3 separate regions of the Homo sapiens genome follow, and all the other regions are linked to region 3. Evidence: fine-mapped expression QTL. A gene starts in region 3. Each other region holds a variant in brackets. All regions are shown on one strand. Distances are from middle to middle.

Region 1 (10,073 bases), 98 kb before region 3:
CAAACTGATGCCAAAAGAGAAAAATCATTTCTTCCACACATTCGCTCAGAGTCTGCCTGGTAATGTGTATTAAATTCTTTGTGTTTTAGCTTGAAGGCACCTGTCACCAGACCAGTTTCAGGATTCATGGGTCAGGGCTCAAACCAATTTTTAATAGATTTTCAAACTTTTTCAGACACGCCCAAATAGCAGCTTCAGAAAGTACTTTACGTATGGTAGTCCCCTCTTATCCTCAAGGGATATGTTCCAAGACCCCCAGTCTTGGAACCTGAAACCCTATACAATGTTTATTTCCTATACATACAAGCCTATGATAAAGTTTATAAATTAGGCACAGTAAGAGATTAACAACAACAATAATAAAACAATTATAACATACTATAATAAAAGTTATGTTAATGTGCTCTCTCTCTCTCTCAAAATATCTTAACATTTTTGGACCACGGTTGACTGTAGGTATAACCCAAGAAAGCGAAACCTCACATAAAGGGGGACTACTGCACCTCATCTTCTGTTTCACAACTGTTAGAGAGCTACTCTCAAGTTCCTGTAAGTCCTTTCTTTCAAGTTAGTTCTGTTAGTTCCTTTTGATTTGGCACAACAAATCCAATGACATAAGAACAATTAACTGTTTGCAAATGCACAAACGTCATCTATTACTGGGAGATTCTTCAGAGTTGGCTCTACTTTCCCAAGGGAAACATAGTCTCCTGCCTGTAGTTTTACAAGGTCCTTTTTATGATCGATCATCTGTAAACAACCATCAAACTCTTCAGCATCTCTAGGACATAATCACTTCTGTCCATTTCCATCTTCAAATAAATCAGCTTTTGTTTCTGCTTCATTTCTGTAGCATCCCATTGTCACATTTTAGCCACCGATAAGAATTCTACCTCTGGGATGTGGTTTTTCAGTATTAAAGTATCCACCTTCCTCCCAGTTCTTTAATTTAATTTCACAGCAAACTAATGGGACTCTCACTTCTGCCAGTCTTGTAATCCACACATCTGTAATTGTTCCAGCCCCTGTAGGTTCAGTGAGTCTGTATTCATGAACTTGCTGCGTGTTGCAGAAAGTGGAGCACTTTCATACAATAAAAGCTGAATATTTCCACCTAGCTAGCTTCACAGTTTCCAGAAAACAAAGCTGTCACACAATCCAGTACTATGCTCTTTTGAAATGTGTTCCATTTTATAATTATAAGCCAGAATAAACAGATTGTGTTGAAGACTACTGATTTCATACACTTAATTCATGACATTTTGGTAGATCTGATCCATGATTTCCAGAACAGCTGCCATCAGTGTTGGTCTCAACCCAGAAGTACACCCTTTGCTTCTGGTTTTTATTTTTTTATTTTTTATTTTTTTGAGATGGTGTCTCACTATGTTTCCCAGGCTGGACTCAAACTCCTGGGCTCAAGCAATCCTCCTACCTTAGCCTCCTGAGTAGCTGGTACTACAGCTGCATGCCACAGTGGGCAGCCCATTTTTTACTTTTAAAGACTGATCCACTGAAGTCTGGGGTGAAGAGGAGCCAAGCAGGCATCCATGAGAAAAACAAAGAAGCTCAAAGCTTAATTCTAGAACATGGGCCACAGGTAAATATCCAATGTAGTCATCTTCCTCCTCCAGTCTGGGAATCCTTTCTGCCATCCCAGTAATACCAGTAATGATGTTTCTATGCGAGATGATGACTCCCTTTGGAAGTCCTGTGTGTCTACTCATGAACATGATTACTGCAATAACCGAGGGCACTGGTCACTTTGGGATCTGTTTTCCACACTCACCTTCACTTTCTACTGCAGCCATGATGTCCATGATAACAACCTTGGGAAATTGGGACAGGTCAGTGGCTTCCCATTGACAGTGATGATGTGTCACAGGTGTGGGACCAAATAAACTATGTCTTTCAACTTTGTTTCCAATAATTCTTTACTAGCAATGAGATTAGTTACTTTTGTTTCATTAATCCATGGGCCCTGGACCTCCTAAAGTAGCATATAATTTTATGAACTAAATGTTATGCATGAAACATACCTATCCAGCAATCATCCACTTGGACGTGGTCTCACAGAACATGGCAATGTTGGTCTTTGGTTTCTGCCCCAACATCTGTAAGCTATTTCCAACATTAAAGGCTCAAACGATGACATCTTCATAGGAGAGCAAATTATGATGTCCAAGAAGAACCTTTTAAAATATGTTTACATTTGGTTGTACTTAATCTTCATTTAAGATTTCACATGTTCCCAAGAGTCTTTTGCTCTTCCTTTTTTTTACAGACGTAAAAAACTTTATCTATTGTATCACATCCAGAGTATAATATTGAAGCCCAGCCACTCAAACTGCTAACAGATTTGTATAGACTCAGGTTTTGAATTTGTAGGCTTTGCTTTAACTTAGTTTGGTTTTTCTTGTCTTGACTCAGACAAAAATTAAAATGGAATATATGTTAAAATAGCATAAAGTGATATCTATAAATTGTATGAAATATAAAATAATGAGCTTGATGGTCCCTTTTTGCTTCATGGTAGATAGTTCTGAAGATACATGGTTATTCATAAGTGCTCAAAAAGTAGAATTAACATATTTCAGCAAAAATCTGTTGACAATGGCAGGAAGTACCTTTATAATATGCATCTTTGTTTCAATATATTTGCTGATTTATTATAAAGGATCCAACTCAAGAATAGCCAAATGGAAGAGACACAGAGGGCAAGAAATGTGGGGAGGAGGGGGAGTGGAGCTTGGCACTTCATGTTCTCTCTAGGCAAACCATACTCCCCCATCTCGATGTGTGCACTAACACAGAAGCTCCAGATTAGGTTTTACAAGAATGATTTATGATATGGGAAAAGCTTACTAGATACTGTGAGTGAGTAAAAGGTAGCAAGCAACCTACATGAAATGATCCCAATAAGGGAATTTTCTCTGAATTACATGATTATAAGTACTTTTTATTTCTTCTTTATATCATTCAGGATTTTAAAAATTCTCTGTAAGCCAACATGGAATATTCTTTCTTAAAAAAAAAATGTTGTTAGAGACAAGGTCCTGCTAAGTTGCTAGCCCTGAACTCCTGGGCTCAAGCAATCCTCCTGCCTCAGCTTTCGAAGTAGCTGGGACTACAGGTGCATGCCACCATGCCAGGCTAGGATACTCTTTTGATCAACAAAGCAAATTTGTACCTGATTGGATCCTACCATGTACTCAGGATCTTATCTCAGTGATCGTGGCACACCACTGGTCTCAGGACACCCACACCATGGTCCAGCCTCCCTAAGCAGGCACTGCTCAGCCTGCCCTTTCACCATACACTCATACAAGGAGGAAACTGAGCCCTGTGGGCACCCTTCAGATCCACAAGCTCAAAGATTCTGAACCTCCGGTGGGGCTGTGCTCACATAGTCAGGGCAAGGTTCCTGGGAGCCAGGTTTTTGCATCATTCCCAGGAACACTCCCTAGCTCAGTCTTGGGGGCCAGCAGGCAGCAATGACAGGGACGCTGCCCTAGGAAGGCTGGAGTGACATACCATGATCTTGGCGATGCAGTCTTCGGTGGTCTCTGCTGATACACACTCTATTTTCCCTACACTGTTAACACTCCACTCATCACACTTGAGCCTCTCGTGGTGGCTCAGCGCACACCACTTCACAGGCTTGCATTCATCTGTTGGGGCTTCTGGGCCTATGGCATAAAAAAAGAACAAAGATCAGAAGCGGCCCTAGCTGTTGCCTGGTGTTTGTCAGCACTACTCACTGTCTTCATGCAAATGCTGGGATTTGCCAGCAATAAACAAACAGACCCCATTCAAGGAATTAATCACCTTAGAAAGCAAAGTCAATGCACAATCTCTTGGTTGACTTCTCATTTAAATTTAGTTTTTTATGTCTTCCGAGAAGCCAACTTTCCTCTCCAGCCTCTGGGCACTATATGACCTCTGGCTGTTTTTTTCCTTCTTGTTTTTCAGATAGCACTTAACTACTGGAGGTGTTCTTATTTATATGTTCATTGTTTATTGTCAGGTTTTCTGCAGGAGAACAGAAGCTCCAACACAGAAAGGGCCCTGCCTGTCTTGTTCACCAGGGCATCCTCAGGGTTAGGGCAATGCTAGCACATGGTCAGCATAATAAATGTCTGATGAATAAATGTACATCTGCTCATCTTTCAGACTGAGCTCAAGAGTCACTTCCTCAAGGAAGCTTTGCCTTAACGCCAAGTCCAGGGCCTATTTTTCTTTGTTTTGCAGTCTCATAGGGCCATGGTATTTTGTTGTCATATTTTTCCCCTTTTAAACATATCTCTTACTTTGTAATTCATCATCCAATAGCATGACTATTCATTAAACATTTATCTTCTCCCCAGTTTGAAATTTCCAGGACAACAGAATCAAATATATATTTGTCATGCCATCCTATGTCCAGCACCTAGCAGAGCATATGGCTAGATGTTCAATAAATGTCTGCTGAATAAATGAATGGTCAAGCAAAACCACAGTGACTCAGTGAAATCCAGGACTGGGATCAACCTCTCTTAGAGCACCTCTTCATTATGGTACATGTTGACTGGCTGGAGATGTGCAATATATAGCAATTTTGTTCTATTTCACTTACTCTGTGATAAGCTAATTGCCTTCACAGAGTAGGTAAGGCAGTCCTGATTGATGCAAAGGAAATACTGGAACCAACCCACGTCATTTTAAATGTGGATTTCCTGTAAAGCCCATGGTGACATCAAGGCCATCTCATAATGACTAACGCCATTCAGCATCAGTCTAACACTGGGCTCACAGACAGGTCAGAAAAAGGAGCATCAGGAGAGGCGTGCAGGTCCCTGAAAAGACTCAATCTCTGGCCCCTGTGCTCACCAGGTTTCCCAAGTGCTTGTGGTCACCTGGTTCTTCCCAGGTACTCACATGTGCCTTCCCGTAGATTCCGGATGGCAGTGACATACTCATAGCCCAGGTACATCTTGGCATCCATCCTGGGGGGGACTTTTAAAAACCCGTGGGCAGAGTCCTTAAACAGCAGGTCCTTCCCATGAGGAGAGCTGAATAGTTGGAATTCTTTTGATTTGTCTTTGCCAAAATGTTCCTGTTCATAGAAAAACAGAATAGTGGATGGCAACACAGAAGAAAGGAGGCTGAGAAATGGGACTGAAGAGAAAAGAAATCTCTGCAGGAAACAACATGAAAAAGTTCAAGATGCCAGGAGAGAGGGCAGTCGGACCTGCTCCTGCTCACCCAGCACTTCCTCTGCCTGTAGCCCTCGTGGGTCCGCGATTT[G/C]CCTGAACCTGCTTCTGTGCCTGTCTCCCGGAACGGGTTGAGACATCGGTGAGAACAAGAAACGTGGCTAATCCAGAGGCTGCCCTGTGTGGTTACCAGTCAAACTCTCAGTGGACAGATGGGACGGCTCGGCAAGAGGAAGCTGGCTGAGCCCAAATCACACAGCTCTTGGGAAGTAAAGCCGCTGTGCAGGCAGCCCCCTCACAGCCGGGCTGAGGGGCATGGGGAGAGAGACCATTTCCTTCTGGGAGGGTCATGGAAAGCCTCCTTGGGGAGGGGTTTAGCTTTGGGCCTTGAAGTTTAGGTAGAAAGGAATGCAACAGAGCAATACAGAGCCTCTTCAGGTGTCACCAGCCAGAAAGGCAAGGGCGGCAGACGGTAGCACCACAGCAGGCTCCCTGCTGCTCTGTGGGGAGTCCCAGCTTTTAGAGAACTTAGTGACATGTGGCATGGCTCCCACTGTATCCTGAACACACAGACTTCCAGAGTGACAAGATGGCCAGGAGGAAAACCCCCAAATCCAAGCAGGGAGCACTAAGCTGGAGGGGAGGATGGCAGGTGGGGATACCTGGGCCTGGTTGAGAAGCTCCCAGATCAAGTCCTCCTTGCCGCCCATACTTCGGGCCACGACGGTATGAGAAGGGACCTGGGCCAAGTGGCAGTCCTTGTATTCATCTACCGGCTTCCGGGTGTTGTCCAGGCAAAGCAGCTCATACTGGTCCCTGTCAGCCTTGTTTGCCAAGTTCTCTGGGGAGGGAAAGCCCAGGTGAGCTTAACACAGGAGAGCCATGGGCTGTGGTGCCCATCCTTGAAATTCAATTGATCATAGAAAGTATGAGCTGAGAGGTCTGGAGTGAGCACTGAAGGCCAGAGAACATGCGGGAGAATGACTCGCTCAAGAGCCCACAGCCAGGTAAAGGCTTCTGATGCCCATGTAGCAGTGATTGCTCCTCATTCCACCATGAGCCTGATCTTAGCAGCACCAACCCCCAGTCTTTGGTTATGGCAACACTACCCCAGAGGCAGAGGCACCGTGTGGAGAGATTGAATGATGGAAAGAGGCCCAGGAATCCAGATGGGGACCCCGTAGGTACCTAACTCTGCACAGGTGGAAACCCAGGCAATGATAAAGGAGAAATACAGTATGCTCATTTCCAATTACTGAGCATGAAAAAGGGAACACAGAAAAAGAACACCCACTACTTGGAGTGGCCCTGGTGGATTCTTGTCCCATTCTTACCAAATATAGTCGAGTGCTTGACAAAGGCCACATCCCCAGCACCATCCTTCAGACACCTGGGTCAAAGAAACACATCAGCAGGGCTCCTGCAGGGCAGGCCCTTCTCCTGCACCTGGAGAGTCTGATCACACTGTCCAGCACTCACACTAGGATAGAGCCTGGTGCAGCCCCGTAGCTGAAGCAACACCATGGTGTGCAGACCTCCAGCGTAGTGCTGAGATGGGGGAATGAGCTCACACGAGATAAAAAGCCCTCATAACCCAAAGAAGCAAAATGCAACTGAAGATATTTTCATGTGAAAAGAGCTTTTAAACTTCTGGAATAGAAGATAATGGTATAGTGTCTCCTGAGGGTGAAAATGTGCCTTTGGCTGGTTGTAAAACTTTAGGATATAATCAAGGTAAAAAGAGAAAGCAAGAAATCAGCTTCCCAGATAGAGACGGTGATGGGGGCAGGAGACAGGCAGTGTGCTGAGCAGGTAACACTGCTGAGATTGAGGGAAGAGGGCCAGTCCCTGGACAGTGGGCCCAGACACTAGAGGCATGATTGTCCTTTCAGGCTCTGCCCGATCCACCGAGAGGAGACACTGACCAGGCTTGAGGGCTCTGGGGAGAAAGGAAGGGTCCCCAGGAAAAGGACCTACTTGTCAGGGTCAGATGAAAGGGAACATGGGCTGGCTTGGCCTAGGAGTCCCAGGTTGTGCTTCTGACTCACTGGGAGGGGATTAGGCCACCTCGATGCCCCTGTAGGCAGGCAGGGCTCGGCTTTGGACCAGCAAAGAACTCTCACCCTGAGGACATTTGGCACTTTGGCCACCATGGAGCAGCAGACATCTCACTCACTTGAAGGCTCCCGAGTAGCCGAAGTATTGGTTAAGGGTGGAGCAGCCACACCCTGGACACAGTTGACACAGCTGGGGGAAGTCCGTCCCATCCGCACAAGGGGCACAGCTGCCCGAGAAGAAATTGGCCACTGCTGCTCAGCACAGAGAAATGGACAACAGAGCATGAGTGAGGCTGGCCACAGCCAATGGCATCACCCCACCCAGGCCCATCAGGGAACAGAGGGGACTAAAACCAAACCAGCACATGCAGCCCCAGCTTGCCCTTATGCTAACTCATCAAGATCAAGGATTTCTAATAGGAACAAGTTGACCTCTGTCTGGCCACCATCCATCAGAGGAAACAGGCCTATGCTTCCCACTAACCAAGGCCTATCTCGGGTCTTTCTCAGAGCACCTTCTCCCTGCTTTGTCAGAGGCTGGAACAGCTCAGAGAGAGGTCCCCTCTGGGATCCATGCCCCAGACATGAGAACTGCTTAAGAGAGGTGCAGGGCTCCAGAGAAACCTCCAGGAAAGAAATCCAGAGAAGTGGACAAGAGAACCACCATCGCCTAGACTGAAACCCTCTGCCGAGCCTTGCGCCCTTTCCTCACTCATCAGAACAGCCTCTGCTGGGGTTTTGGAAGCTCAGAGCAGAAAAAAGCTCAGCTCCACCTCCCAAGTGCTGCTGGTGCAGCAGACCTGCCAGTTTAAAGTCTGTTAACCTCTTTCCCCCACCTGAGTTCATCCCACATGTCTGCTGATGGTGACTGTCTAGTGCAGCCTGTGTGGGCATCTGGAGCAGAGGCAGCTGCTCGAGGGCACCCAGACTCCTGCCAGCTTACCTTTCTCAAGAGGTTTACGTGGCTCAGGTAAGTCACAGTAAAGTAAGCCTATGGGGATGTTCCACCCAGCGGACCTGCCTAGACCCGTGTGGCAGGACTTCTTGCCTCGAAGCTGGTTCATCTGGAAGCCACTATCCTTCTTCACCACAGCAACAGCATAATAGAAAGTCTGTGGATCTGCAAAGGCACAGTGTGAATGGAAGGCCCTCAGCCTGGTGCAGGGAAACATGGCTCATCACCACCGGACTCTTGAGGAGGGAGGGGAGCGGAGAGGCCATGCTTTTACTGGACTGGGCGATAAGGAGTGGGGAATCAGGAAAACCTTCCTAGGGTTGCAGGGGAGAGAGAAGACCATAGAAGGAATATTTATAATATTACCCCTCCAGGCAAACAGGGGCAAGAAGGCCACACGCACATGTGTCCTGAATGCTTTGCCTCCCCTGGCCCTGCAGCGTGTCTGCCTACACCTACCAACCTCAGCCACCAGGAAACTGGAGCTGTGGTAACAGAGGCCCATCAAAGTATTTCATGTCCCCTGGCACAGGCCCAGAGACAGTCAGGTTGATCTCAGAAGACTTGCAGGGCTGCTGGCCTCTGAGTGTGTGCTCCAGAGTGACCCCTCCTGTGTGAGTGGTACCTATGGCTCCAGAGGCCTCCAGGGACCCTAGACATATCAGTAGACCGCAGTAGCCTTCAGGTCAAGCTGCACACAGCCTGCTGTGTTTCTCTGATAAGCATATGCCCCTGGCCCAGGGCTCAGTTTTAGGAGCACCAGTCCTCAGCCAGCCCAAAGCCCCCAGAGGCCTTGATGTGTGGCTGTGGCAGCTGACAGGGCCCCTCATTCTCTACTCACTCTCCAAAGATGAATGTTCATTATATCTGATATCCAAAACCTGCCTGTAAAACACAGCACTCAGCATATAGAATAAGGATGACAACTCCTTCCTGGGGTCCCAGGGAGAACTTACCCTCTTTTGACCCATAGAACTCTGCCACCACAGGCTTCAGGTTATTGGGAGCCAGGTAAGCATCATACACCAAACCTGCATCCAGTGTCACAGCATCCGCTTCGTTTGCCTGAAAGAGAACAGGCCAGTCCTGGATGAAGCCTTGACTTCCAAGGAAGGCCCACCTCAACCCACACAAGTAGAGAGTGGCTACCAGGACTCCACGGACCCAGGGCCAGAACTTGACTAGACCACGCACAGCCCTGCTGGCTTCAGTTGACTCTGTCTCCCTCGCAAGGGCACTTAGCCACCACATTCCTATTCCTTCTGCATAGAGGGAGTGATGGATTGTGTTTCTCTTTTCCCCGGTGAGGTGCCCAGCTCCTGGCCAAAAATCCTACGTGACTTTACCGTAGGCAATTACGAAGGCTTAACCTGGCAGGCTCCGTGGGAGAAAGCCGCCCTCGCCACCCCAGACTCAGAGCACAGCCAGTGCAATGCAGTCTCTGGAGGGGACTCTGCTGTCAAGGACACAGCTCTCTTGGGCTGGCCACGCTCTTCTTACACCTGTTTTCATTCCTAGCCCATGACCTTTGCTCAGAGCCCTCTTTATTTTGAGACTTCCTTTGAGGTCTTCCTCAGGTGCTTCTGTGGAGATTTTTTTTCTGGGGGAAGATGGGAACCTTGAAAACATTCGTCTTCACTCTGACTCAGTACTCAATGCTCTTCCTTCCTGTCCTGGGTCCATAAAACTGCATGACCCTTTTGCTGAGGGATTGGGCACTTTCTCTGGGTTTAGCTTCTTGGTGATACTATGTACTGAATGATCAAAAGCTTGATTATTATTTCCATTTTTGCTCATCTCTGGTATAATTGTCTACTCCAACACATGGGCAGCTCATCTCTCTTTCTCTCTCAGCTCCATTTTACAAGT
Region 2 (10,073 bases), 55 kb after region 3:
GGAGAACAGCATGAGGGAACTGCCCCCACCATCTGATCACCTCCCACGAGGTCCCTCCCCCAACACTTGGAGATTATCATTCGGATTACAATTCAAGATGAGATTTTGGGTGGGGACACAGCCAAACCATTATCAGAACCCCTGAGTTAAATAGTCTTTCATGTTGTATTCTAAGTTCTCTGATATCTCCAAATCCTTATTAGCCATGATACCCTCTCTTTTAGAGTAATTCCACTGGCTTTTGTTAGTTGTTATTCCCTTCCTAAATATTTTGTTTCCAGTTTGTAAACATTTTTAAGAGAAGTGAAACGCAGGCTTCATCTAACCTAAGGAGCTCTGCTTGAAGCTCTTCCCTTGATTAATCAAAAGAAAAAAATACTAGAAAAGACTAAACATCAATCACACTGCTTTGTTTTAATGTTACCTAATCATTAATGGTTTTTCATTCCTCACGTATTTCTTGATGGCCTACTATGTGCCAGATACCATGGATTCACGTTTCAGTGTTCTGGCCAGAGATAATTATACTGTGGCAAAAGTAAAGTTTATAAGATTTATTGACAAAACTAAGTCTACAGATAAAATCATGCATTATCTGTATTATTTTGTTATTTTCCAAATGATTTCACCACTGATTGTTTTTTATTTGTAGGGAGCATTTAGTGGGTGGAAGGTTATTTTACATGTGGATCAGTCTCGAGAAGCAGGCTTCAAACGCCTTCTTCAGTCAGGAGGAGCAAAGGTTTGTATCAAATTAATTTACTGACCTTTTTACATGAATAATCATCTAACCAAGATTGCTATGATGAGTTCTTCATTTTCTCTACTTTTTGAAATGGTAATCCTTAAGTACACATTATACAGCTGAACTACTTTGGAATACTGGTAGATTGTGATACTACCTTGTTTTTTCATTAGGTGCTACCTGGTCATTCTGTACCTTTATTTAAAGAGGCCACACATCTTTTTTCTGACTTGAATAAACTGAAACCAGATGACTCAGGAGTTAATATAGCAGAAGCTGCTGCCCAGAACGTGTACTGCTTGAGAACAGAATACATTGCTGATTATCTCATGCAGGTTTGTGAGATTCTATCCTTGACCTCCTCATTACCAGAGATACGTTTATGTGCATAGATAAGTAACTGCACAACAAAACCTTCAGCTCATGATTAGTAGAAGATTAGTCTCCTGTTATTCTCTTCTATTCCAGCCCTTTCAGTTTTATTCTATTTGTGTTTTTTATTATAATGAACATATTATGTAAACATTTAGCTTGGAAGTTAAATATGAGAAGAGTATAAAAATCTAGGTACCTCTAAAGGCTTTAAAAATACCCTTTAAAATGTTGGAATATAAAGCAGAAATCGATTCCAGGAGTCCAAGGAGAAACATTTATCCAAAGGTCCTTTAGTTTTCTTGACTGTTTGCTTTCATGTACATTAAATACCTATGTTAGACACTGTGGTAAATTTAAGCATTTGCTATATGGTGGGCTTACTACTCTCATATTCAGAATTGGCCTGTGTTGTGTAATTTGAATGGGGTAAGAAAAATCTTCTGACACCAGAGTGCCCAAAAGGCCATCAGGAGTCAGCAGGCATGACACATAATCATAAGGATTAGATTTCATAATCATAATCTATGAAGGATTTCAACTGGGATGATACAGAAATAAGGGGAGGCCAACACTCAAAGTCAGCTTTGTGATTTTGCTGCTGTGCTTGGAGATTGCTCAGGATTTAATAGAATGCCTAAAACACAAATGTGAAGCCGTTATAGAGCAGAGGGCATACTGATTAGTATCCACGATTTTATCTAAGGTTTTCACTCAACGTGATGTTTTTGACATTCATTCAAGTTGTAGTGTATACCAGTAGTTCATTCCTTTTTATTGCTGAGTAGTATTTCTTTGTCTGAATATACCATAGTTGATTCATTTTCCTATTGATGGACCCTTGGACTCCTGGAATCAGAAATGTTCCAATAAGCACTTCCCTTGAGCATCACATAAGTGCTCGAAAGTTTAGGATTTTGTACCATTTCTAACTTTTGGATTTGAGATGCTCAATCTGTACATTATTGGTGGGAAGTGTAAAATGGTAAAAATCCCTTTGACAAAAGGCCTGGCAGCTTCTTAAAAAACGAAATATTTACTTATTCTATTACACAGCAATTCTGTCCTATTTACCCAGGAAAAATGAAAAAATATGTCCATAAAAAAGCCTGTATATTTTTAGTAGCTGTTTGTCATCTTGGTTATCATTAGTAAAGCTACTAAAAATATACAGGGATTTTTACCATTTTACACTTTCCACCAATAATATACAGATTGAGCATCCCAAATCCAAAAGTTAGAAATGGTACAAAATCGTAAACATTTCTGATTTCTGGGTTTCGGTTGCTCAACCAGTAAATATAAATATTCCAAAATCTGAAATACTTCTGATTCTAAGCACTTCAGATAAGGGATACTCAATCTGTGTAAGCCTTCTGGTTATTCCATATTTTGCCAACATTTAGTGTTGGCAGTCATTTGATTTTTAGCCATGCGGTAGGTTTATAGTGGGAGCACATTGTAATTTGTACAGAGTGTTTGTAATTTGTATTTCCCTGATGACTAATGACATCGAGCACTTTTTCTTTCATGGTCTCTTTGTTTGTTTGTTTGTTTGTTGGTGTGTGTGTGTGTATTTAATATTTTTTTCTAAAAAGTTATTGTTTTAGCTTTTATGTTTAGCTCTATGACCTATTACAAATTAATTTTTCTTAATGCTCTGAGGTATGGACTAGGGCTGGTTTTTTTCCATATAGATATCTAGGTGTTCTAGCACCATTTGTTGAACAGATTTTCCTTTCCCACAAAAGCTTTGGCATCTTGATAAAAAATCAAATGATCGTATTTTTGTGAGTCTCTATTCTGTTTCATTATCTACTTGTTGATACCTTTCCTACTGTGTCTTGATTACTGTAGCTGTACAGCAACTTTTGAAGCTAGTATTAAGACTACAATTTTAGTTGTCTTTTTCAAGGTTATTTAGCTGTTCCATGTCCTTTGCATTTCCATATGGACTTTAGACTCAGCTTGTTAGTTTCTACAAAAAAAAAAAAAAAAAAAAGGCCTAGAGTGGTTAAGATTAGGATTGCACTGACTCTATAGACCAACTTGAGGACAGTAAACATCTTTACAGTGTTGAGCATTCTATTCCATAAACCTAGAATGTCTCTATTTAGGTCTTCTTTAATTTCTCTCAGCAACATTTTGTGGTTTTTCAGTAAGGGAACTTACCTATCTTTTGTTAAATTTATTCCTATTTTGTGATGCTATTGTAAATAAAAATTTCTAGATTTACATTTAGATTTTTTTCTACAATTTGCTGCCAATCCAAAAGAATATAAATTTTGTATATTATTATTTATTTATTTTGAGGCAAGGTCTCACTCTGTTGCCCAGGCTGGAGTGCAGTGGCGTGATCTTGGCTTACTGCAACCTCTGCCTCCCAGGCCCAGGAGATCCACCTCAGCCTCCCAAGTAGCTAGGACTACAGCCATGTGCCACCATGCCCAGCTAATTTTTTTTTTGGCAAGGGGAAGGGGTAGAGATAGGGTTTCACCAGGTTGCCCAGGCTGGTCTCAAGCAATCCACCTGCCTCGGCCTCCCAAAGTACTGGGATTACAGGTGTGAGCCACTGTGCCTTGCCTGTCAGTCTTTTATACCCTATGATCTTAATAAAATTCACTTAGTACAATTAGTACCTTAGGCTTTCCTACATAAGCAATCATTTTATCTGCAAAGAGATTTGTAGATTTTCCCTTCTTTATGCCTTTTATTTCTTGTTGTCTTATGTGGCTAGGACCTCAAGTATGCTGCTGAATAGAAGTGGTGAGATTGGGCCTCCTTGTCTTTATTCCCTAGCCTAGGTGGAAAGTGTTCAATATTTCACCAGCTATAGGGTCTTCATAGATTTTTTTTTCCAGATTGAGGAAGAGTCCTTTTATTCCTAGTTTACTAAGATTTCTTTTTCATCATTAATTGGGGTTAACTTTTATAAAATGTCTTTTTCTACTTCTGTTGGAGTTGTTATAAGGTTTTTCTCTTTCCTTCTATTACTATGGGGAATTACATTTTCAAATGTTAAGTTTCATGTATCAGTCCCACTTGATCACGCCATATTAATCTTTGTATATATTGCTAGATTTAGTTGAGTAAAAATTTTTAAAATTGTTTTCAGGGTGGGATATTGGTATGTAATTCTCATTGTTTTGTAATGTTTTTGTCATCTTTTGGTATTAGCGTTTTGCTGGCATCACAAACAAGTTGGGAAGTTCTCCCTTGATTTTCTCGAAGAGTTTGTGTAAGATGCCTCTTTCTTCCTTGAATGTTTGAAGGTCTGGAGTTTTCTTTTTTTTTTTTTTGAGACACGGTCTGGCTCTGTTGCCCACACTGGAGTGCAATGGCTTGATCTCAGCTCACTGCAATCTCCACTTCCTGTGCTCAAATGATCCTTCCACCTCAGCCTCCTGGGTAGCTGGGACTACAAGCGCACGCCACCAGTCTTAGCTAATTTTTGTATTTTTGGTAGAGACGGGGTTTCACCATGCTGGGCTTAAGTGATCCCCACGGCTTCCCAAAGTCCTAGGATTATAGGCATGAGCCACCTGGACTGGAGTTTTCTTTTTTTGTATTTTTATTTTTTAGATGGAGTCTTGCTCTGTCGCCCAGCCTGGAGTGCAGTGGGGCAATATCAGCTCACTGCAACCTCCACCTCCTAGGTTCAAGTGATTCTCCTGCCTCAGTCTCCCAAGTAGCTGGGATTACAGGCATGAGCCAACACACCTGGCTAATTTTTGTATTTTTAGTAGAAACGGGGTTTTAACCATGTTGTCCAGGCTGACCTGAGGCTGACCTCAGGTGATCCGCCCACCTTGGCCTCCCAAAGTGCTGAGATTACAGGCGTGAGCCACTGCACCCGGCCTGGAGTTTTCTTTATATGTGGTTTTTTGTAACGAATTTTCTTTACTAGATACAGCGCTTTTCCTATTTTCTGTTTCATTTTATGTCAGTTTTTAATAACTGGTGTTTTTCAAATAATATATCCATTTCATCTTATCAAATTTGTTGGCATAAAGTTCTTCATAATATTCTTATTATCCTTTTAGTGTAATAAGTTTATTCCTGGCTGGGCACGGTAGCACACGCCTGTAATCTCAACAGTTTAGGAGGCTGAGGTGGGCAGATCACTTGAGGTCAGGGGTTCGAGACCAGCCTGGCCAACATAGCGAAACCCTGTCTCTACTAAAAATACAAAAAAATTAGCGGGGTGTGGTGGCGTGTGCCTGTAGTCCCAGCCACTCGGGAGGCTGAGGCAGGAGAATCGCTTGAACCTGGGAGGCAGAGGTTGCAGTGAGACGAGAT[C/T]ACGCCACTGCACTCCAGCTTGGGCAACAGAGCAAGACTCCGTTTCAAAATAAATAAATAAATAAATAAATAAATAAGTTTATTCCTGATATTGTCAACTTGTGTTCATTTATAACTGGCTTATTTAGGAGTCTGTTGTTTAGTTCCTAAATATAAGAGGATTTTTTTTTCTATCTTTTTAATTTGTGATTGCCCATTGAATTCCATTGTAATCACAGAAAATACTCTATAATTTTAATTCTTTTAAAGTTATTGAGACTTGTTTTATCACCCAGCTTCATCTATCTTAATGAACATATCATATATGTGAAAGATTTTATATTCTGCAGCTGTTGGGTGTTGTGTTCTAAAAATATCAAATAGGTTAATATGGTTGATAATGTTGATCAGATTTTCTGTGTATGTGGGTTTTTTTGTTTGTTTAGTTATATCAATTACTGATACTAAAATCTCCAGCTGTTTGTGGAATTGTCTGTTTTTTCTCTTTAATTTTGTCAGCTTTTACCCCATTTATTTCAAACTTTGTTGCTAGTTGTTTACCCATATATAATTTCTTTGATTTTCACATATTGATCCTTTGTTATAACACGTATCTCTGGGCTTACTCCGCCTTGAATGTACATTATCTGAGGTTAATATAGCCTTTTCCTGTTTACTCTGTGTCATGATATCTCTTTGCATGGTTTTTAATTTTAAACTTGTCTGTGTCATATATTTAAAATGGCTTTCTTGTAGATAGGATATAGTTGGGCCTTGCTTTTTTTTTCTTTGGAGTGTTTAGTCCATCATGTAATTATTGATATGATTGGATTTAGGGATGGGGTTTTTTGCTGTTTGTTTTCTATTTGTTCTTTGTCCTTGTTCTTCTTTGTCTTTCTTGGCTTTTTTTGTATTAGTTTAATATTTTTAGAATTTTATTTTATCCATTGGCCTTCTAAAGCAAAAATATATTTACCTTTTGGAGGGAGAAGTGTTTATATGTAGATTACAAATTACTTCCTGAGGCCGGGCATGGTGGCTCACGCCTGTAATCCCAGCACTTTGGGAGGCCAAGGTGGGCAGATCACCTGAGGTCAGGATTTCGAGACCAGCCTGGCCAATATGGTGAAACCGTGTCTCTACTAAAAATACAAAAATTAGCTGGGTGTCGTGGCGCACACCTGTAATCCCAGCTGCTTGGGAGGCTGAGGCAGGAGAATCACTTGAACCTGTGAGGCGGAGGCTGCAGTGAGCCAAGATCGTGCCTCTGCACTCCAGCCTAGGTGACAAGAGCGAAACTCTGTCTCAAAAAAAAAAAAAAAAAAAATGAAAAAAGGTAGATCTCTTGCATCCAAGTTGGTTCATTTGCTTCCCCTGTCCTTTATACCAGGGGTCAGTAAACTATAGCCACCTGGCCAAACCTGGCCCACTGCCTATTTTATAAATAAAGGTTTGTTGGAAAACAGCCATACTCATTCATTTATGTATTTTCTATGGCTGCTTTTGCACTATAATGGCAGAGTTAAGTAGTTTCAGCACAAATCATCTATCCCACAAAATCTAAAATGTTTCTGTCTGAGCCTTTACAGAAAGTGTGCTGACCTCTGCTTTATGCAGTAGTTGTCATATATTTTACATCTACATCTTATAGCCCCAAATAAGATTTTACTTTAAATAGGTTTTGCTTTTAACAATTCTGTGCATTTTGAGGAAACTAAAATAAAAAATGGTATTTTATAATTACCCTCATGTATACCAGTTTGAGTGTCAGTTTTCCCTGAAGATCTGAGTTTCCATCTGATAACATTTTCCTTCAGCCTGAAGAACTAACTTTAGTTTGGAGTGCAGGTTGATTGGGGATCAATTCTAGCTTTCTGTTGTATGAAATGTCTATTCTACCTTCATTGTTGAAGGACAGTTTTGCAGGATACAGAATTATAGATTGACAGGTTTTTTTCTTCTATTAAAGACTTCACTGTCTGCTGGCCTCCATTGTTTCTGTTGAGAAATCAGTGATGGTCATTTGAATTGTTCCCTTGTATTCAATGTGTCATTTTTGAGACCAGCCACCAGCCTGGGCAACACAGCAAGACCCTTATCTCCCCCTAAAAAAGAAACTCTAGGTTCTATTGTTCCTTTGCTCCTCCAAAGAGTACTGTGTTGTTTAACAGGCAGTTTACTTCATACACTGTGTTTGCGTCCCCAGCCCCCCATTTGCTTGGTTCGTTTATTCTCCAGGCTCTATGGTTGCTTTTAATATATTTTGGTCAGAATTTGTAGCTGTTATCCATGGAAGAATTGAATCAAAAGGCACTTACTTGGTATTTTGTGGTGATTCATTTTCAGGTTGCCCAGTCTGCCATATTGCTAGAAAATTAAGTTTTATTACACTTATAATAAGGAGGAAAAGATCCATTTCTATGTTGGGAAATGGTTGTGGGGGGAAAATGCAAGGGTTTTGGAGTCAGATCAGTTATGAAATTTGGCTTTGCTACCTGCTAGTTATGTGACATTGGTTGTTTTCATTTAACCTTTTTTATTTTATCTCAAAAATGGGGATTAAAAACACCGATATGAAATGTTTGTAAGATCTGAGCTAGTCCCACTCTACCTGAACCATACACGTATTTCTTTGATAAAAGGTGAGACTTTGTCCCACAGGGTCCATTTTGTTTAATTTGCTGGAACCTAGGAATGAATATGCGTTTTCCTTTAAGTTTGTCAGATTCATCCCTGAGAGGTCTGAGATTTAAAGAAAAAATCTATTACCAGATCACGTAAATGTTTGAAATCATTTTAAAAAATCACTTATTTTTCCTTTTATAGGAATCACCTCCTCATGTAGAAAATTACTGTCTACCAGAAGCTATTTCATTTATTCAGAATAATAAGGAACTTGGGACTGGATTATCACAAAAGAGGAAAGCTCCTACAGAAAAAAATAAAATCAAACGACCTAGAGTACACTAATCGCATCTACCCTTTAGTTACCAAACATTAAATGTTTTTAAAAATTGAAAGCCTGAATGTGACTGTGATAGATTTGGGTAGTAATTTAAAGATGAGTACCTGAAGAATTCTGCTTCAGAGTATAATGATGACCCTTCTTGAGTTTTGAACACCTGAAATTGTAATCACTGAAATATTAACTGTTTCTTAATAAAAAGTTACCTGAAATAACAACAAAATACAACTCCTCAGCTAGCTTGCTGTTAAACCACATTGAAGTCTGTTAAAAGATATTTATTTTTCTTGTAAATATCTGAAGCTGTAGCTTAGTGGAAATTTTAGCAAGGTAATGGATTTTGCTTTAAAATGTCTGCCTTACAAATTCATAACAACAAGATTTGTCAGTCAGCATTTATTCATGTTTTCCCTGATTTTTATCTTCTCACCATTTTACCTCTTTTAACAGGAGCCTGAGCACAAGGTTTAATGAGGAAGCTGGGGCTATAAATATGTGTGTATATATGTATATGTATGTTTGTACAAATCTCCATGATGTTTGCCAAGTTTGAATGCGCAAAACTTGGAAAATGTGACAATAAAGAATAAAAGTAGTAACTCAAATTAGTATTAAGATGTGTTTACATAGATAAATTTTTTAAAAGAGCACCCTGGCATCTGTTCTTCTGTTGAAGCAACAAAACATTTATGTAACGTAAAAAATGAATTGCAGGGGCCTGGGTGCGGTGGCTCGTGCCTGTAATCCCAGCACTTTGGGAGGCTGAGGCAGGCGGATCGTCTGAGGTCGGGAGTTTGAGACCAGCCTGACCAACATGGAGAAACCTCATCTGTACTAAAAATACAAAAAATTAGCCCAGTGTGGTGGCACATGCCTGTAATCCCAGCTACTCAGGAGGCTGAGGCAGGAGAATCGCTTGAACCCGGGAGGCGGAGGTTGCGGTGAGCTGAGATCGCGCCATTGCACTCCAGCCTGGGCAACAAGAGCGAAACTCCATCTCAAAAAAAAAAAAAAAAAGAATTGCAGGCCAGGCACGGTGGCTCATGCTTGTAATCCCACCACTTTGGGAGGCCAAGGTGGGTGGACTGCTTGAACCCAGAAGTTCAAGACCAGCCTGGACAACATGGCGAAACCCCATCTCTGCAAAAAATAGCAAAAAATTAGCCGGGCATGCTGTTTGATGCTTGTAGTCCCAGCTACTTGGGAGGCTGAGGCATGAGAATTACTTGAACTCAGGAGGCAGAGGTTGCAGTGAGCTGAAATCATGCCACTGCAACTCCAGCCTGGGTGACAGAATGAGACCCTGTCTCAAAAAAAATAAATGAATTGCTTAACATTTCTGATATTTGTTATTTAGAATATTGCCCTATTAGATTAAAACATACTGTTATTGGAACTCTGTATTGCATTAGCCTTTATTATGCTAAACCTAAACACCTAATACTACATGCGTTACCAGAATTCTCTATAAATACACCTAATTTCATTTTAAGGACAAACTAGAATCCGTTAGGAATGTAATTTTGATGTAAACCGTTCAATTCCAAATGACTTTTTGAAAGGCAGATTCAAACAGTGAAGGAGAGAGTGCTCAACTTGGACACAAAATCCCTTAAATTTTCATCAGATTTTCTTCAAAATGGAGTTGAGGGTATCCCTGCTGCTAGAGGATTGGTCCTACAGGGTTTTCAGCTTTGAGCTAGTTCACAGCTT
Region 3 (10,073 bases):
CTTGAACCCCGGGGGTGGAGGTTGCAGTGAGCAGACATTGTGCCAACTGCACTCCAACCTGGACAACAGTGAGACTCCGTCTCAAAAAAAAGAAAAAAAAAGTACATGGGAGTATGTGCACAGGTTATATATAAGGTACTTGAGCATCTTCAGATTTTGTTATCTGTAGGGGGCCTTGGAATCAATCCTCCGTGGATACTAACCATTTCACCCTTTCCTGAAGGACTGCTGTTCAAGCAAACTTTAATGTGTACCAAAATCACCTGAAGGGCACAGATTGCTAGCCCTACCCCAAGTGCTCCTGACTTAATAAGTCTGAAGTGGAGCCCAAGAATTTTCATTCCCCCAAAATTCCCAGGAGATGCCGATGCTGCTGGTCCAGACACTACACATCAGAACCACTGCTTTATCCATTTTCCAGGAGTAGATACTAGAGACAGACCCTCTCTGCTTATCTGGAGACACAAGATGGGAGAACTTGCCCCCTAGTGGTGAACTCTTACTCTAAAGACAGGTCACTCCTCTGGTATCAAGTTCCGGCTGGGTAAAAGCTAAAGGGTGCATTTTCTTCATCTTCATTAGCAGCATCTATGAATCTCCTTCTCTTGTGAGGTCTCTACTTGGCCCAGAAATGCCAGGAATGGGCTCCCTCCCCGGTGTGGAACTTCACACAGAGATGGGCAGACAGCACGTGCCCAGGAGCAGTGTGGTGTGTCAGGAAAGGCACGGGCAAGTGACACAGTCCCTGAACTTCACTTTCCCCATCTCCATAACATGAGACAATGATACCCATCTATTATAGGGTTGCTGAAAAGAGTAAACGGGAATAGTGTGAGCAGGAGTCCCATGTTAACTGTAAAGTGCCCTAGAAATATTAATTGTTATTACAGATTCAGGTCAGATTTGCACCTTAACAATTAACTGTGGTTTCTTTTTTTTCCCACCTCTAGTGATTTTTGTTTTTTTGCTTTTAAGGCTTTCTTCACCCTTCCCCCAGCAATAGGCCTTTACCTTTGAGCCCCAGTGTTAATTGATTCTGACTCATTTCTGGTAAAAAAAAAAAAAAAAAAAAATTAATGATATTTATTAAAGCACAGTAAGACAGATTTTATTCCGGACCATCAGGATAGGTATAGCAACCATGGCAATGGGATTCTGAATTAGGAGAGAGAGAGTGGGCTCAACTCTAAATACACCATGGGCAAGTGGGAATTTATAGCCAAGGAACAAAAAGCTTGGGGTCACTGGATAAAAAATTACTAAGAAGGAACTTCAGGAGTAAAGGGGTTTCTTGCTGAAAATAGGTCAAGGTGATCAGACATCACCTTGGATGGTAGAGGATGAGGAACCTGATCAGATATTGAGGGTAGAGGGTTCTAACTGGATTTTCCAAGGAAATGCACAGATAAACCTACGAGAAGGTTGAGGAGTCTGACTAAAGTTTGGCCAAGCAAAGAATCTTTGTCACCTTCCATCGGTGTATTCAAAAACTTAAGACTCAAGCTGCTCATTACTATCTTTAGGCTCTAAAAAGAAAAGAAAAACAAAAACAATCAAGGGACATGGCATTATACTTTTACATTAGTAAATCCAAAGTCATTTTCTCAATCTCAGCAGTGAATAATAAAATGATCCTCATTAGTATAGTGGCTAGATTTTATAAAATAAGAAAAAATTTTTTTAAAAAAGAATAAAATGAAAAGAAGCAACAACGAATCAGTTTTCCGCTGGTTATCACTAAGGTTTGCAGGCCCATCTTATCCCCTCTCCCTTTGCTCTCTGCCATCTGAATCTTAGGTTCAGTCCCAGAATCTCCCCAGTACTGAGGCAGATGCAGAGAAAGAGAACGGCGATGTCCACTGAAGGGGAGGAGGAGGGGAGACCATTGAAGATCTTGACAAAGATCCCTTTGCATTAGCTGTGTAATAAGTCATCCTTTCTTCCCTTGCCATCTTGTGGCTGTGTTAGGCGGTGATTCTATTCCTGCTGTGTTGGAGGGAAACCACCCAGTCCGTAGTCAGAAGACCTGGATGCAGTATTAATTCTACCACCTACTAGCCGTGTGCCCTTGAACCCATCATTTAACTTCCTCCGTTTTTACATCTACAAAATGGAACTACCACTATTTGCCTCACGGAATTGTTTTGGATAATACCTTTTCCCGTGCATGCCTGGTATAAGACAGGTGTAAAATAAATATCTATTGAGGAAATCCTTTCTTTCCCTGGCTTTTTTAACAGTAAAGGAGTATTCCTGGCCTGTGGTCCTACCTCTTGAACCGACGGCGCTGGGCCTACTCGCAGCGGAGACTAGGCCCGCCCAGCAAAGCCCTAAACCCAAAGGGTCCGGCCCAAGCTTTCCCTGAAGCCCCACCGCCCACAGACTGCTCACCTCCACGTTTGACATTTCCGCTCTTCTGCTGCAGCTGCCGATGGCGTCACTTCCACCGGAAAAGGCAAGCGCGGCCGCGCGGTTGGCGCGAAAGTCGGTTCCCGTTCTGGGCAATTTCCGGGTTCTCCAGCGTTTGCTTTGGGGTAGGGGCGGCGCCGAGTCGGGGGAGGGGGCTGTGCGCCGGGCTGGCGCCCGACCCCAGCCACCGCCCTGCGGCCAGCGCGTCCCCCGACTCGCCGCCCGGAGACCCCGAGGCTCCAACGAGGTAAGTGAGGCGCGGAGTGGGGACACAGCTCCTCCCCAGCCCCAACTGGGGTTCGCGATGCCTTCTGTGGCCTTCAGGACCCTCTTTTCCTGTCCTGGTAACTGGCCCTGGAGCCGGCGGGTGGGCCTTTGACGCCGAGAGGACGTGGCTTCCGTGATCCCAGAGCCAGGCCTTTTCCTGGAGATGGGAACCGGAGCATCTAGCCTTATGCAGGGCCAAGACCATGCTAACTGGCTTCCATGTTTATATTTAAAATCTGTTTACTGAGGGATGAACGTACCTCGCAGGCCGTGGGTATCCGCAGGGACAGATACACTCTGTGTATCCTTAAAACAAGTGCAATTGAATGTCCATTGGCCTAAAGGGCTTAGAGCCTTCATAGCAGGGCCTTCCTCAGTGTATTCAATTCGGGTTAATTTTGCTGTCTGATTTGCAAGGATTGGTGTTGTCATCTTTTACCTTGGCTTTGTCCAAGTTCCAGGATTTCTTAGAAATGCCGTTGACGAATTCACGGGCAGAGCCAGAATGTCTGTCTTTAGGCATTCTTGTCTGCACAGAAAAATAGGTAGGTTAAACATGCAACTTTTTATCTAATGTGGTTTTGTTCTTGTTAATGGTTCCTTTATTTTGACAGTTCAGAAATGTCCAGAAATGACAAAGAACCGTTTTTTGTGAAGTTTTTAAAGTCTTCAGACAATTCCAAATGTTTTTTTAAAGCTCTCGAGGTAAGAGTTGAAAACATCTTAATACCGTGAATTCATTTTCTTGTTTTTAAGTGTTTTTGATTTGTTGGGCTTTATGTCTTAGAAGTAGATATTTCACTTTCATAATAATTTTATAGTCTACATTAATACAGATATATCATTATCACATATTTTTGAATTGATCTAAGTACATCATTATGTATTTCGGGGGGCTGGAAGTCTATTATCACATTGCTGTTTAATATGGCTGACCTACAGTTCTTGGAAATTAAGTTGCTTTCATTTGTCTCCTAGCCAGAGTGGTCCTTTGCGTGCTGTAGAAATTTGAGTCAGTTGTGTACTGGTCATACTTGAAAATTTTTTGGTTAATTGTTAAAAATTATGTTTTATTATGTACAGTATAATAATTGGATGATAGTAGGGGTGATGTAGATCCTTGCTTCTCACAGAACCCAGCAGTATCAGCATGGCCTGGAAGTTTCTTCGAAATGCAGAATCTTGGCCTCCAACCCAGACTTAGAATCTGCATTTCTAACAAGATCTTCAGTGTGCATTAAAGTTTGAGAAGCATTTGTAGCAGATTTTTTTAAACTTCATTCATTCAGCAAGTATTTATTGAAGTGTTCATGATTTGATAGGCACTTCTCTAGTACTTGGGATTTATCAGTGATGAGAACAGGCAAAGATTTCTGTTCTTTCAGAGCTTACATTCTAGCAGGAGGACATAGACACTAATCAGACATGATAAATTAGGAAGAGAAAAAAGCAAAACACGTTAAGGGGTTCCAGAGGATGTTTCTTGGGGTGGGAAGAGAAGGGGGTTATAATCTTAAATAGGGTGTGATCAGGGTAGGCTTTATGAAGAAAAAGATATTGAGTAAACGTGAAGGAGGTGAGATAGCCTTGCAGATATCTGGAGAAGAATGTTGCAGGCAGAGAGAGCAACCTTATACAGCCCCTGGGAAAGTGCCTGTAGTCTCTATCCAAGTTTAGTGTACTGTTGTGTAGTGAGTGAGGGATGGGGGAAGAGTACTAAGGAATGCGTTAGAGAATAATGGTAAAGAGGTCATGTAGGGCCTTGTGGGCCATTTTTCTCTCAGTGGAGAGCCATTGGAGGGTTGATAATCAGAAGAGTAAACATGATCTGACTTACAGTTTTAAAGGGATTACTGTATTTAACATAAGGACCTCAAAATTGGTTCAGAACATTTCTGAGTGCTTACTGGGTGTCAGGATATAGTAGCAAACAAGATACATAGAAACTTCCAGGGGAGAGAGACAAAAACTATATATATATATATAAATACGTATTTTTAAATAGAATAGACTAGAAGGGTAGAGGAAGGGTATTTGAGAAAGCCTGATTAGGATGGGCATCTCTGGGGAGGTGACATTTAAGCAGACCTGATTGAAGTGGGGGATTAAGTCAGGTGAAAACCTGGAAAAAAAGTATTCTGTGCTGCAAGATCAAGAGCAGAGCCTCTAAATGAGGTTATGGTTGGCTTGTTCCAGGGTTGGCAAGAAAGCGGGAGTGGCTGGAATAGAATAAGCAAGAGAGATGAGAAGTAGGAGGTAAAGGTGGAAAGATAGGCAGGAAACCAGACTGTGTTGTCTTGAAGGCTGTAGTAAGAAATGTGGATTTTATTCTGGGTGTGGTGTGAAGACATTAGGTTTTGAGCAGATAGTGACATGATCTGACTTGTGTTTTTGAAAAGATTATTAGCTGCTGTGTAGAGAACAGATTTAGGGCAAGGAAGGGAAAAAGAGACCACTTGGGAGCCTTCTGCAGAGGTCTAAGTGAGATGTGATGGTGGCTTTCAATAGGGAAAAGGCTGGATTTGAGATGGAATTTGAATAGGACCTAAATACAGGAGAGTAATTTCAGGTACATTCTTATTTTATTTTTTCTTTCAGTCCATAAAAGAATTCCAATCAGAAGAATATCTTCAGATTATTACAGAAGAAGAGGCATTGAAGATAAAGGAGAATGATAGATCACTTTATATCTGTGACCCTTTTAGTGGCGTTGTCTTTGATCACCTCAAAAAGGTTTGCTGACTTCTAGTGTGTACCTTTGGTAGTCTATTTTTTGGTTTATCTTTGCTTTAATGGACATACATTCTTTGCGGATTATAAAGTACTATGCAACTTATGAGTACATTGGAATTCTTTTGGTTTGGCAAGACCAGGATTGAAAGGCTAATTATGTTACAGTAGGCTTTTTTTGTTTGTTTGTTTGTTTTTGTTTTTGTTTTTTGGAGACAGAGTCTTGTTCTGTTGCCCAGGCTTTAGTGCAGTGGCACAAGCTCAGCCCACTGCAACTTCTGCTTCCTTGGTTCAAGTGATTCTTGTGCCTTAGCCTCCTGAGTAGCTGGGATTACAGATGTATATACACACCCGGCTGATTTTTTTATTTTTAGTAGAGAAAGGGTTTCTCGATGTTGGCCAGGCTGGGCTGGTCTTGAACTCCTGCACTCAAGTGATCCTCCCACCTCAGCCTCCCAAAATATTGGGCTTATAGATGTAAGCAGTAAGGCAGTTTTCAGTGAAAGGGGCTTTTGAAGTTTATTTCTTTTCTTTTCTTTTTTTTTTTCTTTTGTTATAGGGTCTCACTCTGTCGCCCAGGCTGGAGTGCAGTGACGTGATCTCAGCTCACTGCAACCTCCGCCTCCTGGGTTCAAGCAATTCTCTTGCCTCAGCCTCCCTAGAGACTGGGACTGCAGGTGCCCGCCACTGCACCCGACTAATTTTTGTATTTTTAGTAGAGACGGGGTTTCACCATGTTGGCCAGGCTGGTCTCGAACTCCTGACCTCAGGTGATCCACCCCCGCTCGGCCTCCTCTGAAGTGCTGGCATTACAGGCGTGAGCCACTGTGCCTGGCCTGAAGTTTATTTCTTTTGATAGCTTGCATTGTTTGATTTGCTTTTGTGTGTGAGTGTTTAATGTATAGTATCTCTGAGAAATTATATAGTCATCTTTATTTTTTTCTTGTAATGATTTGCTGATTTCTCTACAGTGGTCATCAACTTTGGTAAAGAATTGGTGAATGTTACAAAATGTAATTTTGTAAGACTGGTGGTCTTTTCCTTCTTAACTCATTTAAACTTTTCTCTTTTTTGTAGCTTGGCTGCAGAATTGTTGGTCCTCAAGTAGTCATATTTTGTATGCACCACCAGCGATGTGTCCCAAGAGCCGAACATCCAGTTTATAATATGGTTATGTCTGATGTAACCATATCTTGTACAAGTCTGGAAAAAGAAAAAAGGGTAGATATTGATCTCATGATGATTGATCAATTTATATATCTATCTCTTATTCTTAATTTTTCACTGCATAGAAGATAGCTTAAAAGACTTTCCGCTTATTGTTCGTGACTTTTAACAAAGTTCAGTATACAACCACAGTGTGTATATATGTATACATGTACATTTTTTAAGTAAATTGAATATAGTAGAATTTGTTTTGTTGAAAACTGGCTAATTGAAATTTTTTGTTTTAATTTAAAAGGACACTCATTTTTTAATCACTTACATTTTTCCACTATAGGTGGACAGTCTTTAAAAAAAAGGATTCTAAATCGTTTGAATCAGGGAGGTGGAGGTTGCAGTGAGCCAACATCACGCCACTGCACTGCAGCCTGGGTGACAGAGCAAGATTTCGTTTTGGAAAAAAAAAAAAAAAAGCATTCTAAGAGAGAGCTATAGAAATACATATATATATTTGGGACAGGGTCTTACTGTCACCCACGCTGGAGTGCAGTGGCACAATCACAACTCACTGCAACCTTGATTTCCTGGGCTCAAGTAATCTTCATGCCTCAGCCTCCCGAGTAGCTGGAATTACAGGCATGCACCACCAAGCCTGGCTAAAAATAAATATTTATATATTATATAGATATAATTTATGTTGTTAAAAATACACATGTATATTTATATAGAAGCAAAGATTAAGATTTATACATCCTTTGTATAATAGTTTAATACATTCATGGAGTTGAAAGGGATAAATATAGGAAAATAATATTTTAAAAATATAATTCATACTTATCTCCCAAAAAATAATTTGGTTAATTATTTAACTTTATAATGTTATGTAACACTTATGTATTCAAACTGTCAACAGCAAAATGTATTTATGAGATAGTGTATAAAAGTGGAAGCAATATTGTTTGCTTCAGCATTAATGTGTTCTCTTTTGGGGCTGCAGGAAGAAGTTCATAAATATGTACAAATGATGGGCGGACGAGTATACAGAGACCTTAATGTATCAGTAACTCACCTTATTGCAGGAGAAGTTGGTAGCAAAAAATATTTAGTTGCTGCAAACCTGAAGAAACCTATTTTGCTTCCCTCTTGGATAAAAACACTTTGGGAGAAGTCACAAGAGAAGTAAGAAAGACATTTTTATATTTTCTAGATTTGAAAAAATGATGCATTCAATCATTTTTGGCATGTGATATACTCTTTGGACTTACTATTCAGGGAAAAAAATAGTGTCATTACTCTTTTCTCCAGCGAAAACGGAAGAGCAGAATCTACAAGCTCTTATTACCAAGATATAAGTTGACAGGCATAGAATGGGCCAAGGGTTTAGCATTAGCTACAGAGTAGGAAATGCTTTGGTGATAAAGTTCTCAGCTGTAAATATTTCTGAAATAATTGAGAAAACGAGTTTGGCAATTCTGTAGCTTTTATGTTGCATTATCCTTCAACACCATTCCCATATGTTAAGATAGATAATAAATTAGTCATTTTGGCAGTTGCATTCCTTCCAAAAGATGGCATATGTAAGGTTGAATATAAACATATGCAAGTCATCAGCTGAGATGTGATCATTTAATAAATGCTAATTGAGCCCATTTTACGTATCTGACTTGAGGTAGGCATTAGGTATATGTAGTAAGCAAAACAAGATAGTCACTTCCCTCATGGAGCTTAGAGCCTATTTCAAGGGGCACACTTCAGTTTCCCCTGCAACTAGATAAACAACCACAAGACCAAACACCACAGAATTGTATTGGCATACGAATTATATCGGCACTTTTCTGGGCTTGTTTTCAACACCATCCAGCATATCCCAAATATGTCTCCATGTCAGCAACTCTCATTCCCAATGTGATTACTTCATCAGCACACCTCCCTAGCATGGCAACAGAATAATGATATTTTTGTTGGTATTTTGCCAAAAATCATTGCTTTTACTTGTATAGAATAATGGAAAGATTAAAAAGTTCATTTATCTAATAGGCAACCAAATTACCTTTGGGTTTTTAAGTAGAGATTCAGACTTATCATTTTGGAAAATATACTATGACCAGCAAGGGCTAGAGTTAAGGAAATATATATTTTTCCCTTAAAATGGTTTTGAGAGACTGTATCTGAAACAATTACTTTGTTTTAGAGACATGTTATTGAACTAGGTGAACAATTAGTGTAATTCTGTTTTGGTGGTTCTCCTTTGTAAAAAAAAGATTATAAATCCTAAAAAATGAGGGAAGCAATAGTGATATTTGTGTTGTTTTTCATTATTCTTCTGGTAAATTTAATATGTTCTTTTTTAACCATTTGATTCCCACAGAAAAATAACTAGATATACTGATATAAACATGGAAGATTTCAAGTGTCCTATTTTTCTTGGTTGCATAATCTGTGTGACTGGCTTATGTGGCTTAGACAGGAAAGAAGTTCAGCAACTCACAGTTAAGCATGGAGGTCAATACATGGGACAATTGAAAATGAATGAATGTACACACCTCATTGTGCAAGAACCAAAAGGTAAAACTGTGTTTCACAAAGGGACAAATGAAACATTTTCTCTAGTATTTAATATTTTATTTTTATTTATTTATTTATTTATTTTGAGACAGAGTCTTGCTCTATTGCCCAGGCTGGAGGGCAGTGGCACAATCTCAGCTCACTGCAACCTCTGCCTCCCTTGATCAAGCGATTCTCCCAACTCAGCTTCCCGAGTAGCGGGATTACAGGCACCTGCCACCACGCCTGAATAACTTTTTATTTTTAGTAGAGACGGGCTTTCACCATGTTGGCCAGACTGGTCTCTAACTGACCTCAATTGATCTTCCCACCTCAACCTCCCAAAGTCCTGGGATTACAGGCATGAGCCACCGTGCCCAGCCACTAATATTTAATATTTTAAAATCTTTACAGAACAGCTTTTACTTCTGACATGTCATTAATCTAGTTTGATACTGTTTTCTCTAACATCTTGCAAAGATGTTTTCTCTAACATCTTGCAAAGTTTTAACTGGAAGACACACCTTGCGGCACATGAGGCAGTAAAAAATGAAAAAGACATTACGAACAAGAAAAATTCTTTAAAATTGCTATTAAGTTTGGTGTTACATAACATTATTCTGGATAATTTTTTATCAGCACTCTTAAAATATACACAAATTGATAAAAGATGAGTTTTGTTAATGTTTTTATTATTGCCCTTTATATGTATACTGTGTTTTACTAAGCTATCTAGATTGAGAAGAAATTACGATTAAATGGTAATTGTCCTTAAGTCAGAACTTTGAGTATGGCTGATTGTGATAGGATCACTGTGAGTAGAGTTGATACTGCTGTTCTTTTTCTGAATCTGAAGACAGTTCATTGTTGATTCTCTCAAGAATGCCAAAAAACCTTTCATGTGACATATTGACCTCAATTCCTCTGTGATACTGCTTCAAAATACATTGTGTTGAAGA

The links. PIP is the estimated chance that this variant, and not a neighbour inherited with it, causes the effect.
Region 1: its variant is fine-mapped to the expression of TOPBP1 in esophagus mucosa (GTEx, PIP above 0.99).
Region 2: its variant is fine-mapped to the expression of TOPBP1 in whole blood (TOPMed, PIP above 0.99).

Annotation. Positions count from the first base shown.
Region 1 is chr3:133,752,791-133,762,863 of GRCh38, reverse strand. It overlaps TF (transferrin), which reads right to left. Exons shown (of 17, transcript NM_001063.4): 3 at 9,161-9,269; 4 at 8,193-8,369; 5 at 7,369-7,501; 6 at 6,527-6,582; 7 at 5,855-6,033; 8 at 4,918-5,095; 9 at 3,535-3,689. It also overlaps the pseudogene ACSL3P1. Among named protein-coding and RNA genes, the nearest start is that of TF, 11 kb to the right of the region's middle. The variant G/C (reference allele first, on the strand shown) is at 5,287.
Region 2 is chr3:133,599,542-133,609,614 of GRCh38, reverse strand. It overlaps TOPBP1 (DNA topoisomerase II binding protein 1), which reads left to right. Exons shown (of 28, transcript NM_007027.4): 26 at 653-742; 27 at 919-1,080; 28 at 8,222-9,377. The coding sequence ends at 8,365. Among named protein-coding and RNA genes, the nearest start is that of CDV3, 31 kb to the right of the region's middle. The variant C/T (reference allele first, on the strand shown) is at 5,417.
Region 3 is chr3:133,654,352-133,664,424 of GRCh38, reverse strand. TOPBP1 (DNA topoisomerase II binding protein 1) reads left to right here and starts at 2,484. Exons shown (of 28, transcript NM_007027.4): 1 at 2,484-2,656; 2 at 3,291-3,381; 3 at 5,275-5,409; 4 at 6,484-6,627; 5 at 7,568-7,749; 6 at 8,939-9,135. The coding sequence starts at 3,298. LOC124909487 reads right to left here and starts at 3,199. Exons shown (of 3, transcript XM_047449438.1): 1 at 3,079-3,199; 2 at 2,392-2,912; 3 at 1,087-1,526. The coding sequence starts at 3,199. The coding sequence ends at 1,377. It also overlaps a transcript of TF not described here. RefSeq lists an enhancer at 2,058-2,127 and a silencer at 2,528-2,697.